3 separate regions of the Homo sapiens genome follow, and regions 1 and 2 are each linked to region 3. Evidence: fine-mapped QTL for protein levels in blood plasma. A gene starts in region 3. Each other region holds a variant in brackets. All regions are shown on one strand. Distances are between the middles of the regions.

What was found. A credible set is the group of variants that fine-mapping cannot tell apart. PIP is the posterior inclusion probability: the model's chance that the variant is causal. Protein levels are from antibody-based Olink assays in UK Biobank. Linkage for the fine-mapping came from a reference panel and not from the study's own genotypes, which makes the PIPs less certain.
Region 1: its variant is the best candidate, but not a certain one, in a credible set for the plasma level of the CCL13 protein (UK Biobank, PIP 0.53).
Region 2: its variant is the best candidate, but not a certain one, in a credible set for the plasma level of the CCL13 protein (UK Biobank, PIP 0.81).

What each region holds. Positions count from the first base shown.
Region 1 is chr17:34,246,065-34,248,913 of GRCh38, reverse strand. No RefSeq gene overlaps it. Among named protein-coding and RNA genes, the nearest start is that of CCL2, 7.8 kb to the left of the region's middle. The variant C/T (reference allele first, on the strand shown) is at 1,688.
Region 2 is chr17:34,318,332-34,320,831 of GRCh38, reverse strand. It overlaps CCL8 (C-C motif chemokine ligand 8), which reads right to left and starts at 1,397. Exons shown (of 3, transcript NM_005623.3): 1 at 1,255-1,397; 2 at 446-563; 3 at 1-30. The coding sequence starts at 1,330. The variant T/C (reference allele first, on the strand shown) is at 1,557.
Region 3 is chr17:34,354,927-34,357,716 of GRCh38, reverse strand. CCL13 (C-C motif chemokine ligand 13) reads right to left here and starts at 1,237. Exons shown (of 3, transcript NM_005408.3): 1 at 1,115-1,237; 2 at 128-242. The coding sequence starts at 1,190.

The sequences.
Region 1 (2,849 bases), 110 kb after region 3:
CTTCAGCCACTTAAAAAGGCTTCTTTATTAATGATTTCAGTCGGCTAGCTGGTGGAGCCCCACATTGCAAAGCACTGGCTCCATTCAAAAATCCTCTTGCCTTTACTGTAAATTAGAGTCTGAGGAAGGAAGCTGAATAAAAATGCAAATAGTATTTGTCTAATGAGTCAGGAAAAATAGTTTTCCAAAGCACACACATCTCTGACTTAAGTGCAGGGAGTTAAAAACAAAGCATTATCAAATAATTCAACTATGCAACTTATTTATTGCTCACGGATGTGGCCATGGTAATGAGAGAAACTTTACAAGTGCACTGTTCCCCTTGGAGCTGTTTGTAATGGAGTCCGAACAGCAGGTGTGTAGGTGTCAGACAATGTGGGGCACGGACTTTTGTCTGTCTAGTTTACTCCTGCATCACCAGCATGAGGACCTAGCATCAGATGCTCAATAAATATGTAAATTAGGAAGCAATCAGAGCTGGGAGGTGTGATAGAGATCCCAGAGTTGAAAATCCCTGCACCACTGCTTAATGTAAGATGGGGAAATAAAGTTGCCCAGGATTATAGCGTTAGCGTCAGTGCCAGTGCTAGAGTGCAGACAAGCTGTATGTGTGTGTGTGTGTGTGTGTGTGTGTGTGTGTGTGAATGTGTGTATGTGTCTGTTGGGGGAAGTGCGCGTGACCTAGATCTTAGCATTTTCCAACAGGAGTGCCAGTTACTTGTGTCCCTAAGGAACACTTCTTAGTTTATAGAAACCTTATTCAAGTAGAAACAGGCACTTGTAAATAGGCACTCATTGTCCTGGAGAAAGGGAGAAAAAAACCTTTGGGGGCCCAAAGACTGGAGATAGGAGAAGAAATGGATACATTTGCTCAAGGACCAAGAGACCTCCTGAGAGGAGAGAAATTGAGGCTTTTTCTTCTGAGTCCAAAATTATTAGCCACGGAGAGTGTGGGGAGGTTCCAACTGGATTGGTCGCCTGAGTTCAAGGCCATGGCAGAGAAATCAGTGGGTGACGATTGAGGCGGGAAGACCTCTGCACCTGCCATGTTGATGCAATAGTCCTGCTTTGAGAGCAACAGCCAAACCTGCAAGTGCAAACTCAAGAGGCTGAAACCTAGGGGGCCCAAGGATGACACTGTGGCCAAGGCTGGAGGAGGTACCATGAGAGCAAGGAACAGGAAAATCTTTAGGTGGTGTGAGGCCAGGGATCCATAGGTACCCTGGGGACAGTGACAGAAGCAATGGCAGTCAGGAGTCCTGGCCACTGGTAAGAGGGTCAGGTTACCCAGCTTCCACTTTGCTTGAAACTTAGCAGCAAAGCTTTCTCAGCTTGACTGAATAGGTCCTCAAGGTTCTGGGGACACTGTAAGGATGTTGGGAGGGGGCTTAACCATGAATTACTAGACTTCCTCCTAATATGGACAACCTGGAGGCCTGGGAATTAAATGAACATAATGAGAGAGATGTGAACTATTTGTACCCCGAGGTGACAAAAAGGACTATGCAAGTGACACACAAATATTTATTTATTATGGCTAGTTCGCTGCTCTAGCATGTCCTTAGCCCACATTTGTCCCATGTTCTGCTCCCAATGCAGTTAGGATGTATTTACATTCCAAAATTATGGCATTAGCCTTGTCATTATGCAATTCTGATTTCATGACAATAAACATTAATTTTAAATA[C/T]TTACTGAATATCTTCTAGAACACCTGTGCAGTTAACAAGGAAAGATTTTAAAATTGTGGGTCATGAGATGCCAAAAACCACAACCCCTTATGTGTCCTCTATGATTCATTAAATCATGGGATTCCCACAAAGCCATTGCTATGTAGGTGACACTGGTGTCATTTCCTTGTTTTATAGACAGAGAAATGAAGCCTTCGAGGTTGACTTGCCCAAGGACAAGGGAGCTGGGGACTGGAGGGGTTGGGATTTAAATTCACGTGTTCTCACTCCAAGCCCAATCTTCTGTATGATCTACCATCCAAGTGTTTTTTTCCTTGAAATCCGTGCCTTTTCTTCTCCTGCTTATTTTCTTTTCCTTTCATTCTAAGGCTCCCCTTTCAAGGTCACCTGCACCCATGCTGTAAATGGAAGGCTTGGTAAGGAGCAGAAGGTTAAGGGAAGGAAATATTTAGGGAATGTAAGTTCTCTAGTTTCCTCTGGGTCCCTCTTCAAGTGAACTTATCACCACTTCATATCAGCCTTGCTGCATGGCCACCCTTTGGACTTCGTCATCTCCCTGAACTTCTCCATTTTGTAATGTTCCACTTAGTAATCCAGTCCTTTGACCACAGCCTTCTATTTCCTTCCCCTTCAGCAACTCTGAATCTACTGCATCAGCTCCTCCAGGTCCCTTAGCCCCTACCTGGCTTCCTTTCCTCCCCAGTCCAGCCCAGTGTTGACCACTCTCCTACCAGCATACAGATGCTCTCATTTCTACAATTCTATCTCCACACCTGCCAGTGCCCAAACCCAGGTCATCGGATCATCTTCCCCCTGATTCCTGACCACTCCCAGGCTGTTGGGCTTGCTGGAAGGCCTGGATATCTTTAAGGACAAGAGGTCCACAGATGCGACAGACTCCTCAGTGCTGCTGCTGTTCCGCAATGTGCCCCTAGTTCTTTGGCGCTGCCATACTCCACAGTGGCATTCCACACCTTCACCCTTCCCCTAGCATCTTGGGCTCCTGTCTCAGGCTTCAACATTCTCAGGAGACAGCCTCCTCCCCAGTGAAGGCAGAGGCTGTGAGATAAGAATTCTCTCCATGCCCATCCCGTGCTCATATCAAAACTTAACTCCATCTTCACGTGATTACAGCTCTTCCTTCCTGGCTCAGAAGAGCGG
Region 2 (2,500 bases), 37 kb after region 3:
CAGACCTCCTTGCCCCGTTTGGTCTTGAAGCTGTGGGGGAGAGAGGGCACAATTAGATGGAAGACTTTGAAGATCCTGCACAGGACTGTGGGCCATTGGTCCCTAGAACTGATCAGCCCTTGGTCCTTAGGTGAAGGACCCGGACCCGGGAGAGGAGGGAGGGGAAGAGTGGGAGGAAGAAGCTCCAGAAGGAAGCTCTGCTCTTGCTGTCCAGGTGAAACCCTCCAGGGTCCTGGCTACAGATATTGGGTTAGTTTCACCAAGCCCCTAGAAGGGAATCCTAGAGCAGTTATGGACTCCTTCTCATGGACTGAGTTTCTCTATGGGGTAGAGGGGCCCTTTGGATAGAAGTTATATGCATCCGACTCATATGGACATGAATCTTGACTTCTCTATGTTGTCCATCAGAACTTTTGAATGGGGGTGCCAGGCACTGTCCACTCACATCACAGCTTCCTTGGGACATTGGATGTTGGTGATTCTTGTGTAGCTCTCCAGCCTCTGGATAGGAATTTTCCTATTGATCACGTTAAAGCAGCAGGTGATTGGAATGGAAACTGAATCTGAAAGAAATTTTGCAAAGAATGAGACATTTAGGACCCACCGTAAGTGTGCATTTGTAAGGAAAAGAAGAGAAGGAAGGAGAAGACCAAGAAGTCACCATCCCAAGTTCAGTGTCTTAGTCCAGATCCCAGAGATAAAATGTTGCCTGTGAGTCTCTTTCCTCTATTGAACTCTGCGGCCCGTCATTGTTGACTGGGTTTGGAAACATTTTGAGTAACAAGCTAGTCCTTGTCTACTAACCCAAAACTTCTGACACTGGGAACATAAGTTCCAATACCTTGCTTCCCAGTCTTTCATCCTCATGGGCTTTAGAGTTAGCCTATGCCATACGCTGAGATTCCTCTGGGTCCTCATCCTCTTTACACAGCCACTGTTCTGGAAGGTACACTGAACCATAACCAAAATTTGAAGCTTCAGGCAATAGTTTCTCCCTCTCCACTACGGCCTGAAATGTCCTTTACACCCACAGTGAGAAACAGTTCTTCGTTCTGGATTATTTCCCCAAACAATGGGAGGGTTGTTGCTGTAGCGGCTCCACTGTCTCCTCCCAAAACTGGGGTCAGGAAAGATCAAGGGAACCAGCCTCAGTGACCTGAGCCTTTAGTTCTGGTTTTGTTCCTAATGAGCTGTGACATAATGGCTCTTCTTAATTCCTCTTTTGGTCTCCCCTTAAAAAGGGAGAGGTCTTACCTGGCTGAGCAAGTCCCTGAGGGCTGAAAGTGGCTGCCATGAGCAGCAGGCACAGAAGCGCTGCAGAAACCTTCATCTTGGAGGGCAAGGGTGTGAGCTTCAGCATGAGAGGTGAAGGTTTCTGGGTTGTTCTCAACCTCTCTGCTCCTCGGTGGCTCTGCCTGCCTTTTATAGGGAGCAGAGAGCCTGGGCATGGTCACAATCAAGGAAGAATGAAGTAAGACCTTCCTTGAATATGCTGAGTAAGCACCAGATCCTGGGATAATTTCCAGATAACAAAACAAGGAAGTTGTGAGTTTCTA[T/C]CTTTTGCTTAGGCTCTGTGGAGCAGAGGCTGAAGGGTATGGGATTGTGCTCAGCAAAGTGACCTCACTGAACTATTAAGGGCTCTGATTTCCTTGAAATGGAAAATTGTCTATAAGAAAGGAAGAATGGAAGCTGACGTCATAGTGGAAGAGAGCCAAGGGCCTACCCCTCTGTGGGTAACAGGAGGCCAGGGATGGGCCCTAAGGCTTTGCTGGTGCTCTCCATCACACTAGAGTCACTTGCAGTTCTAAGCCAGGCAAGCTCCTTTAGAACCCCAGCCACAGAACGTTGGCAGAATGACAGAATCCTGGAACTAAGTCTTAATGCCCCAGAATCTTACTGTTGCAGAGGGTAAGAACTAGACAGCACATGCTGGTCTTGTAGCATGGTGGTTTCCAAACATTTTATTTAGATGCTCAAGTTTCTTTCCAAATGAAATTATATGGAGAAGTCCAATATGTCATGGAGATTCAGGTGGAATGGGTCCGTCTGCAGAAGGCCTTCCAACTCTCTTGGTTCACACACAGTGGGGCTGTGGGCGGGGCGTGGCAAGAAGGAACCAGGTTTGCAAAAGACTGACCTCATCTACTCCCCCTGCAGGCCTGATCTATCCATCATTACAATATCATATAGAAGTTTTCCTGCTCTAAGAATTCACTGTATTCTTCTATTCATCCTTTTTCCTCTCCACAAATCTCTGGCTACCACTGATCTTTTTACTATCTCTGTGAGCTTGTCTTTTCCCAAGTATCATATGCATAGTTGGAATCATATAGTAGGCAGCCTTTTCAGACTGGCTTCTTTCACTAAGCAATATGCATTTAAGGTTTCTCCGTGCCTTGTTGTGGTTTGATAGCTAATTACTTCCTTTGTTCTTTATTCATTTATTATTTTTATTGTGGTAAAAATGCACATACCATCTTAACCATTTTTAAGTGCATAG
Region 3 (2,790 bases):
ACACAGTCTGGCTAGATCTCATCCTAAGATCTCAAGTCAGTCTGACGTCTGTCTCCTGGGGCAGAACTTTGGATTGGGGAATGTGGGAGTGGGGAGGAGCCAGGTGAGCAGGGATTTTTCTACCCACATGACAGCCTTCTGGGGACACCTGCTGGTGGTGATCACATAGCTCTTCAGCCTCTGCAAGGAGATCTTCTTACTGCTAAATGTGAAGCAGCAAGTAGATGGGACGTTGAGTGCATCTAGAAATAGTTACAAAGAAAAAGACTTTGAGGATGTGTTAGGCTTTTCTCAGCTTGAATACAGCAGGGAGCATCTGTATGGGATGCAAAGCAAAGAGGAAGAAATAGATCTTACTCACCCCCAAGCCCAGCACTCCCACCCTAGACCCTGAGGTGAGGTGGGACCTGTGACATGTGCCTCAGGATCTCAAAGGCTCAGCTGCATGGTGGAGACATGTCACAGCCATCTAGGGGAGGCCACGGGCAAGGCCAGTGGGAAAGGTCCTGGGTGTGGTCCCAGATCTGCAGAGTTTGGGACGATCAGATGAGGTCAAAGAAAAGGCCCTAAATCTGGAGTCAGAAGCTTAGGTTTCATTCTTGCTCTGCAATAACCTGGAGGTGGATGGCTAGGGTCCCTTCTGCCTCCAACATGGGCTTCAGCTTTCTATCTTTAAAATTAGATGTTAAAGTGAACCTCTGAGGAGCCTTACTATTCTGGTGGGCTTAGAAGTGGGGCACTTGGCTGGGCCTGGTGGCTCACGCCTGTAATCCCAGCACTTTGGGAGGCCGAGACGGGAGGATCACTTGAGGTCAAGAGTTTGAGACCAGCCTGGCCAACATAGTGAAACCCCTTCTCTACTAAAAATACAAAAATTAGCTGCACGTGATGGCGGGTGCCTGTAATCACAGCTACTCAGAAGGCTGAGGCAAGAGAATCGCTTGAACCTGGGAGGTGAAGGTTGCAATGAGCCAAGATCGCACCCCTGCACTTCAGCCTGGGCAACATAATGAGACTCAATCTAAAAAAAAAGTGGAGGAGCACTCGGGCTTAGGTCTTCCTTGAATAGAGAAACAGAGGGAAAGAGAGGGAGAGTCGAAGGGAGGTGACTTACCTGGCTGAGCAAGTCCCTGGGGGTTGAAAGCTGCTGTCATGAGCAGCAGGCACAGAAGCACTGCAGAGACTTTCATGTTGAAGGTTAAGAGTTGGAGATTTCACAATGTTTCTTTGCCTCTCTGCTCCTCTGGCTGTTCCGCCGGCCTTTTATAGGGAGTGGAGAAGCTTGGAACTCTCAGAGGACCTTGGCCTGAGCAGGGCGTTGACCAAGTCATGATGAAGGGGGATCCTGAATCTGCTGAGCTGGAGCTGGGCACCAAAGACTTTTCTAGGAAATGCAAGAGGGAAGCTGAGGGCTGAAACAGCATGGCATGGCTTCCTTCTGGCTGTTCAGGCCACAAGGAGCCAGAGAGGAGAAAGGGACACAGACGCGCCCCAGCCATTCACCATGGGAAGCCATAAAGGAGCTGTTTTCTTCTTACTTTCTCCAACAGGAAAGAGAAAAACAATGAAAATTAACTCCTGTAGAGAAAGAGTGCTGTGCTAAGGACTCTGTTCACGTTATATATTTAGTTTGAGGAGGTACATACCATTATTATCATGCCCATTTCATAGAAGAGGAAACGGATGCAGAGAGATTAAATAACTTGACCAAAATCTTATGGGAAATGAGAGGGAAAGCTAGAAGAGAAAGCTGGTCTGCTTATATTTTATCACCAAGGCAGTTTCAACTTTTGTTTAGCAGCAGAAGTCTTTTTCCAAGTCAACTTTTATGTGGAAGTCTAATATCTGAAACAGATTAAGTCAGATTTCTGATGACAGGGGCTCCTTACATTACATATTGTGTCCCCTTCTGCCCCTCAGGCCCAGAGGGACATGGTTCAAACACCTCTGATTGATGCAGGCCCCGTGTTTCCAGGAAGGACCATTGGGTTTCTAGAGCTGTTGATGGGAGGGCTGGGGTGGCCCTCAGAGCAAAGAAGTGAGGTGTTTGGCCCATTCCTGGGCTCCTCCTGCGAGGGGCACATATCTGGGAGCTGGGAGGTGGGGAGGGAATGGCTTAAAATGGTTGAACATGTCCCTTTCCCACTCATCCCTAGCTCCAAGACTTGGCACAGTTTTTGTGCCTTCCTGGAATACTCATCCCTCTGCATTCCACTATAGCAAAATAAGCCCAGTGAAAGTAAAGGGAAGAAATAAAGAGCTAGGATTAGAGAAATAGGAAACAGTAAATATTAGAAAGGATAGATGAAGCCCAAAGCTGGTTCTGTAGCCTATAATTAAGCTAAAACTCTCCTGAACTGAAAATGAAAAAAAAAAGAAAAAAGGGGCTGAGGCGGGGGGATCACTTGAGGTCAAGAGTTCTAGAGCAGCCTGGACAACATGGTAAAACCCTGTCTTTACTAAAAAAAATACAAAAATTACCCAGGCATGGTGGCACATGCCTGTAATCCCAGCTACTTGGGAGGCTGAGGCAGGAGAATTGCTTGAACCTGGGAGGCCGAGGTTACAGTGAGCCAAGATTGCACCACTGCACCCCAGTCTGAGTGACAGAGTAGGACTCTGTCCCAGAAAAAAAAAAAAAGAAAAGAAAAAAGGAAAAAGGTACATATAACCAGTTGCAGAGCCTGCAGACACCAAAAAGAAAATGATAAGAACCTTATGCCAAAAATTTAGTTTAGAGGAAATGGATGAATTTCTTAAAAATCTAACTGACCAGGGTGCACAAATAAA